Linked DNA regions of Homo sapiens: region 2 is linked to region 1. Evidence: fine-mapped expression QTL. A gene starts in region 1. The other region holds a variant in brackets. All regions are shown on one strand. Distances are between the middles of the regions.

Region 1 (5,365 bases):
GTTTGTTCTGTTTTCTGGGGTAAGTCCCCCTCCTTGTGGGCCTCAGGTCCCTCAAATGAAGGGTTCAATGATATCTAGGTTCTTTCTACCTCGTTATCTGATAAGAGAAGGGGAAGCTCAGATTCAGAAACTGGAGGGCAGGACTAAAATCCTGGCTTTGGGGTTGGCAGCCCTGGGTCTAAATACCAACTCTGTAGTCTACTAGCTGCGTTTACTTCTCTGAACCTCAGTTTTCTCATCTGTAACGCAGGGCTAATAATTGTACCTTCCATCTAAAGTGGCACTGACTAAAATCAGATGGTGTATGTTCAGCATGGAGCACAGTTCTTGGCACGTAGGAAGCACTCAATCTATATTCATTGAGTGAATGAGTAAATGAATGAATGTGAGGGAGTATCTGCTATCCTCTCCCCACCCAGCCCCTTCTGCCCCGTTCATCCTCCTACCTCCACACTCCAAGTTTGGAACCCAAAGCTGTGCCTCCAGCTGTGAACCTCCAAGGTCCTATCTGTGCCTCAGCTTCCACCCCAATCCCCACAAGAACTCCATATCCCCATTCCCCCCAGAACCCCAGAATCCTAGGCTGCTGGAGACAGAAGGCCCTTTGAAATTATCAAATATGGGCCTCTCTGACTTTTGGAAAACTAAAGCCCAGAGAAGAAATGTGACTTTGCACATGAAAAAGGGCAACGGGCCCCAGATAAGGTGGTCGGAGAATGAGACCCTCGGTGCACATGGCCATGCAAATAATATGCAAATAGAGATATGGAAATCACAAGCACACAGGGGTATATAAGCTGTGTGCAGGCATTTTTCCAGAATGGTGGTAGGTGAGTGCAGTTGTAGGTAAGAAATGGACTTCAGGGAAGGGGCCAAACCTGAAGTTGGGGAGGAGAAGAAAAGGCCAGAAGGGGATGGGAGTTGGGGGAGTGTTGAATAGGAGGGAAGGAAGGAACAGAGGCTGAGAGTGTCCTGAGAGGGACCCCCTTGGGCCTCCAATAAGCCCTTGCTGGTCTCTTTCCTCACCCAGAAGAAACAAGAAAAAGTGCAGGGGACGGTGGCTCACACCTGTAATCCCAGCTCTTTGGGAGGCCGAGGCAGGCAGATCACCTGAGGTCAGGAGTTTGAGACCAGCCTGACCAACATGGAGAAACCCCGTCTCTACTAAAAATACAAAATTAGCCGGGCATGGTGGCGCATGCCTGTAATCCCAGCTACTCGGGAGGCTGAGGCAGGAGAATCGCTTGAACCTGGGAGGCGGAGATTGCCGTGAGCCGAGATGATGCCATTGCACTCCAGCCTGGGCAACAAGGTAGAAACTCCATCTCAAAAAAGAAAAAGAAAAAGAAGCAAGAAGAAGTTTCTCTCCTCCCTTCTTTTCGGGAGCGTGGGGAAGGGAGGTCCATGTGACTGGGGAGGGTGGTGTATGTGGACCTGAAGAAGCAATTAAGTGCTTCCTGTTCCTCTGGGGCCACTGTAGCACCCACAGAACACTTTCTGATACCTGTTGTGTGCCCAGCCCTGTTCTAGGTGCTGGGGTGCTGGCACTAGAATGAAGCAATTGATCAGTTACCAACCAGGGGGTAAGCTAAGAAAAGGCCCTCAGAACCTGCCACGAAGGCTGTTAAGAACATGGAACTTAGGCTGGGCGTGGTGGCTCACACATGTCATCCCAGCACTTTGGGAGGCTGAGGCGGGTGGATCACGAGGTCAGGAGATCGAGACCATCCTGGCAACGTGGTGAAACCCTGTCTCTCCTAAAAACACAAAAATTAGCTGGGTGTAGTGGCACGTGCTTATAGTCTCAGCCACTCAGGAGGCTGAGGAGAATCGCTTGAACCCAGGAGGTGGAGGTTGCAGTGAGCCGAGATTGCACCACTGCACTCCAGCCTGGCAACAGAGCAAGACTCTGTCTAAAAAAAAAAAAAAAAAAAAAAAAAAAAGAACACGGAACTTAAACTCTCTAAGCCTCATTTTCCCCATCTATAAAATGGCAATAATCATAGTACAATGTACAGGTTTTGAGGACTAAACAAGAACTAAAGGCACGAAAGATGCCTTTCAAGTGTTGGTCACCCCAGTGCTTGATACACAGTGAAGGCACACGAAATGCTGGGTGTTATCGTGGGCATGACTGGAGTGCACGGTGGGATGGGCGTGCCAGGGGGAAAGGACACTGTAAACAAGGTGTAGAGGCAGGAAAGCCCAAAACCTGTTCTGTGCTCAGAAAGTAGCCCATGGGACTAAGGAGAAGACATGTTCATGAGGAGTCCTGTCTGGGAAGGAAAGCGAGGCCCTGCCCTCCTGTCTGCACACAGCTTTCTGGGCTTCCATGCAGGCCATCCTGTGGTGACAGACCACTTACTGGGACTTGAAGAGACGAAGAGAAAGGGGTGAGCCTATGATGGGTGCTGCAAAGAGCACTGGAGTGGGAGTCCAGAGACCTGATTCCAGCCAGGCTCTGTCACTAGGGAAGTGTGCACCTTTGAGCAAGCCGCTTCCCCGCTCTGGAAGGTGGCTGTCACCAAAAGCCTGGGCACTGGTAACTTCCACATCCATCATCTCGTAGAGCCTCACAGCAACCTGGGACCTGGGGCGGGAGACTGGAGGGGCAAGCAGGAAGCAGTTGTGTGCACCTGGAAACTCTGCTAATAATAAACTGCACCCCGTCTAAATCCCACAATGCTGTGAGGATGCCATGGGGGCTAGGTGAGCTTGGTCACCTGCTCAGCCCAATAGGGAACCCGATTAGCACCTGTCCTGTTTTACAGGTGAGTTAAATGAGCTCAGGGAGGTGAAGAACCTTGTCCCAGCCACACTGCTGGTAAGCGGTTGGGAGGCGAGATTCCAAAACTGAATTCTTTCCAGCAGACCCCCGCGACTTCTCCAAACACTCCAACTCCTTGCAGCGCTTACACTTCGCGATCTGTCCAGAAGGAAGCTCGGGCTCAGGCTGGAGAACCCGCCAGGGCTTCCTAAAAAGGGCGAGCAGGACCAGGAGTTGGCGCCACTCCGGGCGCGGTGAGGAGGTGCTGCCAGGCTGGGTTGGAGCAGGCAGGTGTTCCGCGGGATCGAGACCCGCCCCGGCAGCACCCCCGGCCCCCTCCCCAGGTCCCCAGCTCCATGTATGCAAATCACTGCTTTGCATGGGCCTGGGGCCAGGCGCGGGGCTCCTGCCAGGGGGCGTGGCCGGCGGCCCCCGCCCCGCGCCGCGTGCTCACCTGGGGAGTGTGGCAATCCTGGCGGCGCCGAGTGTTGCCCGGGCCGGAGCAGCGGAGCGCGCGACAGTGGCGGCGACGGCTCCGGCAGCGGCTCCCGCGGCGGCGGCGGCCGGGAACTGGAGGAAGGAGACCCTGGCTTCGCAGGGGCCCCGGCTGGGGCAGAGGCGAGGGGCCTGGGGGGGCGCTGGCTTTGGCCCCGCCTGGGGCAGGATGGTGAATCTGGAGTCCATGCACACAGGTGAGGGGCGGAGGGAATGAGCTCTGACAGGTGTCACTGCGCGTGGGCAGGGGTGAAGGAGAGGGACAACGTTCTGGTTAGGGAGGGGGGCTTGTTTCCCAGCGGCCAGGAGAGGGCGGTGTGGATAGCGGGTTGTCCTGGGGTGGGTGCCGGTCAGTATTTGGGGACTAAAGGGAGGGGATCTGGGATAAGAAACCCTGGAAAAGAATGAGGGTGGGGGCTGGTGAAGGGCGGGAGGGCTTCGAAGCCCCCGGTCTGGGGAGTGGCAGTTGTATGGGACGTGGGTGTACTGAACTGTCATAGTCTCAGGAGGTTGCAGGGATGGGTGGTTCACTCACTCAGCCAGGGGTGTGGACCTGGGAGTGCATAAGTGAGGGAAATGTGTATGTCCACATGCTGTGTGCTGGTGTCCGGGCATATGTGTGAAATGGAGGCAAAGCGGACATTTAGGTGGTTGGGGGGCTTAGGAGAAGTGGCTGAGGTGGGGCAATTACAGAGGTGCCCCTGGGGCAGGGGCCATGCCCCCATGTGTTTGAGAAGGGATGGTGACAGACACATCCTCTGGGTTCCATGTCCCATGCCTTCCTTCCCTAAGGGGTGGAAACCTAGGAGATGCAAATGCTTTGCCGGGAGTCAGGCTTCCCTGAATGAATGAATGAGAGGTGGGCATGGAGGGAACCCAGCCCCTCCATTCACCTTGCTGTTCCTCCTTCCACAGCTGGGCTAAGGCAGGAGCTGCCAGGCAGCCAGGTTGGGCTTGGCTTGGGGCTTCCTGTTAGGGTGGGCCTTCTGGAGGTCACAGGGCCTGAGCAAAGAACAAGTGAAGAAAGCGGTACCTGACCTGGCCATTTCTAACCTAGCAACTTACTCTCAAAGTGGGCAGGACCCAGTGATCTTTCTTTAGGATTTCGGGGCTGTTGATGGGAATGTTGTTACCTGGTCTCCTTTCTGGGAGAGTAGGGAGGAGGCAATGCTCCAGACCCACCCCAAGAAGCAGAGCAGGCCTGAGGCCTACCCAGCCTGAAAACAAGCGTCAGTGAGTGCCCGGAGGGAGGGGACCTGGAGTGCCCAGTTCCCCAGATGCTGTTTCCTGGCAGGGCTGAGTGAGAGGCAGACTGGCAGTGAGATGTTGGCACTGAGTGGCTCTCCAGGACGTGCCAGAAAGGCTAGGTGAGGCGGAAGAAGCCATCCAACTGGGTGTCATCCAGAGTCTGAGGAAAGTCTGTTTCTAGACTGGGCATACCTGGGGCAGATCCCCGGGTAGGTGCTCTCCCCTTCACTGCCCGCAGAGAAGGCCAGGGTTTGAATGGGAGCAAGTCTCTTCAGAAAGGTGGGCTTAGCAGTGGATGGGAAGTTTTTTAGCACCAAGATCACAGACTTCCTGGGGGTTTTCCACCTCCTTGTCTACTGGAGGCTCCCATTCTGTGGAAGTGGGAGGGGGTGGGACAGTTGGGACCCAGCAGGGAGGCAGCCTGGGGCCTCAGAGGATATAGCAGAGAGCAGAGAACACCAGAGGATGAGGTTGAGGCATAGGGCTTGGCCTCTATGCCTTCCCCAGGAGTGAGCTCCTGGCTGATGCTTCTCAGAAGCCCAGACACCTTCTCCACCCTGTCCCTGTGAGCAGGTATTCCCGACACATGGGGGGAGACTGAGCTAAACCCCAGGTGGGGTGATTCCTCAGGGCGGGATCTCCATGTACCTGGGGGTAGATTGCCCAATTCATCTCTCTCCATTTGCCTGCTCCCTCCCCAGCCCATTCCCCCCTCAGGGCTACCTGGCCTCCCTGTGCAGTTTCTGGGTCTTGGCCCCTCTGTAGTGTCTGAGGGTTCCCCTTCAGTGGCACCTCCAGAGGTCTCTGAGTTTAGGACTTTCTGTCCCATCTCTCTAACTGGGTCTCTATTAGAGG
Region 2 (5,365 bases), 22 kb before region 1:
CAAGGTCAGCAGTTCGAGACCAGCCTGGCCAATATGGCGAAACCCCGTCTCTACTAAAAAATAAAAAATAAAAAAAAATTAGCTGGGCATGGTGGCATGCACCTGTAGTCCCAGCCACTCAGGAGGCTGAGGCAGGAGAATCGCTTGAATCCAGGAAGCGGAGGTTGCAGTGAGCCTGGATCGCGCCACTGCACTCCAGTCTGGGTGACAAAAGAACCCAGGTGATTCCAGTGTGCAGCAAAGTTTGGGAACCACTGGCGCAGTTGCTCTAGGGGAGGGGAGGGGACCTGGAGAAGGAGCCAGCTCAGGTTAAATGAGGGTAGGGCCCAAACTCAGTCACATATTTGAAACCTGTCATCTTACCCACACTAATCCTAATGTGTTTTGAGCAGCACATATACTTCGGGCCTAATGCTGTGTGCCCTCAGTACACAAACTAATTCACAGCGCGCCCTTGGTGGGCAACACTCTCCTTTATACTCCACATCCTATGGGTGTAATTAGCCCTGGATGTACATAATCACTGGCATATCTAATCATAGGTGTGTCACCATCCCCTCTCCCTAAACTGGCTATTTGACAGCCCTTCTGGTCTACCTCCTGGAAGCTGGTATTCTTGCCAGTTTCTCTTTCACCTCTGTCCCCTAGTCCGAGTGGCCAAAAGCTGGGAAGAGGATGAGTCACGCTCCAGGCTGCCTGCCTTGGGGCTGACCGGATGGGGAGGGTGATACTGACAGATATGAAGAAGGTCATGTGTGATGGCATCACGGTGGTGGGCGGTGGGGGTCCCTTTCCCCTCCCAGCATCAGGGAGGATAGGGAGACACAGACTCCAAAAGTGTGGAAGGAGGGGATCCTGAAGGCCCACAGCTGGAGCCCTGGAGGGAATAAGCAAGATAAGGGGAACTGTACAGCTGTGTGGGTCAGCTCAGGGCCGCTTCGAAGGGACAAGGACCCATGGAGGATGGAAGCTTGAGCCCTGTCCTGGGCACTGATGAGTGAGTGGGAGCCAGAGGAAGGGATAGTCCAAAGAATGCTAGGGCCCCTGTGCCGGGGGGCCTGGTCTGTGGGTGGGGGAGCAACATGGGAAGCCTTGAGGTGCAGTCAGTAAAGATGTGGAATGTGCAATGTCCACGTTGCCACCTAAGAACGTGTATCCCAAGGAGATATCACAGCACATAGATGTGGGACCGAGAAGCTTTCAGGGCCCAGTCTGCCCCTACCCTGTCTGTGTTAGCACCCTTAAGATTTGGCGTGGAAGCATCTGATGGATGGAAAGTCTCCTTGGGGAGGAAAAGGCAGTGGAGGTGCTTTCGGGAGAGGCCCAGACTTTTCTGGAGCTCAGAGCATTTCCTCACAGGTATTTACAAGAAGTCGCCAGATGGAATGACCAGGCTCACTGACATGGGGCTCCTGGGTCTAATATCTGTCCCTCCTCTGCGTGTGAGGAATTCCTCCTCAGATCAGGATGGCCAGCCCTGCCTGAGGGTTCAGACCCCCTCCCGGGAGCTTGGCCAGCATCTCCCACCCCTGAATGCTATGTCCAGGTGGAGTCCTAGCAAAAGATCCCGGTAGGCCATGAAGACTGCCACCTGGGATAATGGAGGATCCTGCTGGGAAGCTGGTGGGGAGAGTGAGTTAGTTCCCTCCCAGGCTTCCCAAGGCACAGAGAGGTGGTGGAGATAAACTTAGGACAGACTCCTGTTCCGCTGGCGGAGGGCCCAGCCTTGAAGTGAGGATTGCATAGGGTCTGGAGATCACCCATTGAGCAGTCCCTCATGTCACACATGCTCTTATCTGATCGCCTGGAGCTCTCAAGTGAGGCTGACAAGATGAAGCAGCTGATGATCCCAGATTAGGACCCAGGGTTCCTTCCAGTATATCCTGACTGCCTGTCTGCCATGGTACCATGAGTGGGCTCCTTCCAGTAGGCTAAAGAACCCTGGGGAGGGAGGTGGAGGGGAGAAGGAGGCTGGAAAAAACCTTGGTGCAGAGGAACAAATCCACAGAGACCCTCGTTTGTACAGACTTGGGCTGGACCACTTCCCCCACGCTCTTACCTCCAGTGGATGGAGTGTTGGCTACTTGGCCATGCCTGCAACTCCTCTCTCCCCTGCATGGCCTCTTGGGGAGCTGGGTGAGGGGGATGAGTTTGGAAAATATCTCACCAAGGCCAGGTGTGGTGGCTCATGCCTATAATCCCAGCATTTTGGGAGGCCGAGGCAGGCGGATTACTTGAGGCCAGGAGTTCGAGACCAGCCTGATCAACATGGTGAAACCCTGTCCCTACTGAAAATACAAAAATTAGCCAGGCATGGTGGTGTGTGCCTATAATTTCAGCTACTCTGGAGGCTGAGGCGGGAGAATCACTTGAACCGGGGAGGCAGAGGTTGCAGTGAGCCGAGATCACGCCGTTGCACTCCAGCCTGGGCAACAGAGTGAGACTCCATCTCAAAAAAAAAGAAAAGAAAATATCTCACAGACACTAGTGAGCAATCACTATGTACGTTTTTTCCTGCCACTTACCCACTGTGTGACTTGGCAAGTCACTTAACCTCTCTGAGCCCCAGGCTCCTTGCCGGTACACCAGAGACAACAGTGTGATGCTTGGGGTTCAGTGTGCGCAGTGACTAAGAGGCCCTTCGCAGAACAGAGGCCCGCGTGGGCATGTGAGGAGTGAGGTGCCAGTGCCCGCTTGGATGTCCGTCTACCCCACCGTTAAGCATGTTGCTGCAGCTGCTGCTTTTCTGCTGTAGGGACCAAAGCATCATGAGGAGCTAACATCCTTGAAGTTGGCAAGTGTTGAAGTGGCTGCCACTAGGGATTCAGATAAAGGGCAGGGAGAGGCATCAGGGCTGGGAGTGCGGGTGAGAGGGAAGCATGGAGACCCGTCT[C/T]AGGAGCACTGAGTCAGCAGCACAGTGGGGCGCAGTTGATCCACATAAAGCCTCACATTGTTCCTGCAGCAGTCAGGACAGTGGTGACCTTTGGGATTCGGCTGACAGAGCACTGCTCTGGGGAGGGGCTGGGGGCAGGAGCACTGCTCTGGGGAGGGGCTGGGGGCAGGAGCACTGCTCTGGGTGAGTGGTTGTGCTAATGCCCCAAGACAAGCAGCCTCTGTCCAGGCCTAGCCCTGAGGGGATGCTGGCATCTCATCATGGGGCGGCCTAGGTCCCTGGGCACTGGCCTCGGGATGTGCGTGGCCTGGCTCTGGGTGGAATCCATCCACCCCGTTCCTGCTCGAGAAGCCTGGGCAGAGCAGCCAGGGTGCTTCCAGCTTTGCCGTGGGGCTAGGAAGGCACTGCTTCCTGGCTGGCTCTGCAGGCTAAACCCCCTCTCCCCTCCCCAGCCCAGCGAAGCCAGCCACTTCTCTAGCCATAAAGCAGCCCCAGCCAGGAGCAGAGGAATAAATATTTAGATTGGCTCAGCCTGGGCCCCAGAATCATGCTCTCTGGTGTGACAGGAAGGAGACCAAGATGGCAGAGGACACTCCCAGGAGAGAGCGCCAGCTGTCCAGGAGCAAGAGGGTTGGAAGAATGGGAGGGGGCCAAGTGGCTTGTGTGGCCCTAGAGCGATGACCTGCAGCCTGGGCCATGACCAGCACTGGACAGTGGTGGCTGGAAGCAGGGTGTGGAGGGAAGGGGCAGTCTGCTGCCCTGGCCCCCTTTGCTTTCCATTCTCCTGCAGGCGGGCCTCCCCCCAAACCCCAGGGCTTTCTGGGGAGGGGCTGAGGAAGAGCGCCTGGAGAGTGGGGCCAGCTAGGGACCGTGATGGGAAGGCAGGGTGCCAGAGGAGACCGGGCAGGCTGGAGCAAGGTGATGACATGCGGTAAGAGTGTGTGCCTGCACATGCACGCATGTACACGTGTGTGTGTGTGTGTACACACGTTATGAGAAGTGGCATCGGGAGGAGGCGTGTGAGGAGAATCGAGCAAGTGAGGAGGGTGATGCGGGGTGTGCCCTGACGCTGGGCATGAGATGGGGAATTCACAGGGGGGGTGGGCGTGGGGACTGCGGAGAGGGGTGTGATGAGACGGTGGGGAGCCGCCTCTGCCGGCAACAGGGAGACTGAGGGAGGAGACAGGCCCAGATGCACCCCTGTGGAGGGAATGGGAATGTGGAACAGGAGCCACTGGGAGACCTTGCGGGAAGGAGACTGAGACCCAGCTTGTCTGTGAAAGAGGACGGTGTGCGCGAATGGGGAAGCCGTGTGAGCCTGTGCATCAGTTGAGATTAGGCTCAGCCGTGAGCAACATAAACCCCCAGGAACAGCGGCTGAGGCCGTGGCAAAACAGCCTGTTTCATTCTTCCCAGTGTTATCTGAGTCTGGAAGCCAGTCAGGGCTGGTGTGACAGCCCCGCTATCCCCTGGGATCCAGGGGCTCCCTCCCCACCCTCAGTGCTGAGCACAGGATGTCTGCCCAGGGGTGCTCTGCCGTCTCTCAGCGCATTCCCCCAGTGCAGCTGAACCAGAGCAGCCTTCCCTCTGGAGACACAGGTGGATCCCAGTCAGACAGCATGGCTGGGATGGGCACAGGGAGGAATTGAGTATCTGGACAAGGGCTACGGAGGGGAGCCAGGACAAGCATGAAGATCACTGGACTCAGAGTCAGGAGGTCTAGGCTTCTGGCCCTGGCTCTGCCACTGTGTGACTCATGAAGGTTACTTCCCTGCTGGAACCTCACTGGGCCATGAACTAGATGATCCCCTAAACCTTCTAGATGCCAAAATAGCAGCTGTAGCACTATCAGCCTGCAGGAGCCCAGCTGCAGGCAAGGCCGAGAAGAAAGAGTGTCTGCACATTGGAGGCCAGTGGGTTGATGGAGGCCCTAGAGCATTCATTCGTTCCTCCAGCTACTAAGCATTGAGCCCCAGCTGTGCGACAGACCCCAGGGTCACCATGTGAATAGGCTAGAGTCGCTGCTCTTGAGCCAGAGGCAGGTCACAGAGGGCTTGGATGACTAACTGCCTGGGCAGAAGGTGCTCCATGAGGACAGAGACCATCTGACTGGGGCACTGAGATCCAAGGCACTCTCACAACCTCAGGCAGAGTCTGATTCAGCTCCAAACCACAGGTCCCTCATGTCACCCCAGGCTCAAACCCACCAGTGACTTCCAGAGAGGCACAAGAGGAAGCCTCCCACTCCTCAGCCTGGTTCAGACCCTGCGTCCTGCTTGTGTCCTGACCCCTTGCCAGCCTCATCAGCACTCACGACCCTTCCCCTCCTCCCCTAGTACATTCCCACCGCTTTTCTCAGAGAACTCTTCCATGCTGTTGTTCATTCACCCTTCATGTATTCCTTATCAGATGTTTATTGAGCACCTGCTGTGTTCCAGGGGGCAGGGATGCACTTCAAGCAAGCCACTTTTC

Direction of the effects. Alleles are on the strand shown, and positions count from the first base shown. SD is a standard deviation of normalised expression in the study named.
With allele T in place of C in region 2, the expression in transverse colon of the gene that starts at base 3,228 in region 1 is higher (moderate effect, 0.53 SD a copy in GTEx).

The links. PIP is the estimated chance that this variant, and not a neighbour inherited with it, causes the effect.
Region 2: its variant is the best candidate, but not a certain one, in a credible set for the expression of POU2F3 in transverse colon (GTEx, PIP 0.67).

Annotation. Positions count from the first base shown.
Region 1 is chr11:120,236,913-120,242,277 of GRCh38, forward strand. It overlaps POU2F3 (POU class 2 homeobox 3), which reads left to right and starts at 3,228. Exons shown (of 13, transcript NM_014352.4): 1 at 3,228-3,459. The coding sequence starts at 3,432.
Region 2 is chr11:120,215,127-120,220,491 of GRCh38, forward strand. All of the region lies in intron 1 of OAF (out at first homolog), which reads left to right. Among named protein-coding and RNA genes, the nearest start is that of OAF, 6.8 kb to the left of the region's middle. RefSeq lists enhancers at 2,513-3,096, 2,913-3,057 and a cis regulatory region at 2,978-2,991. The variant C/T (reference allele first, on the strand shown) is at 2,894.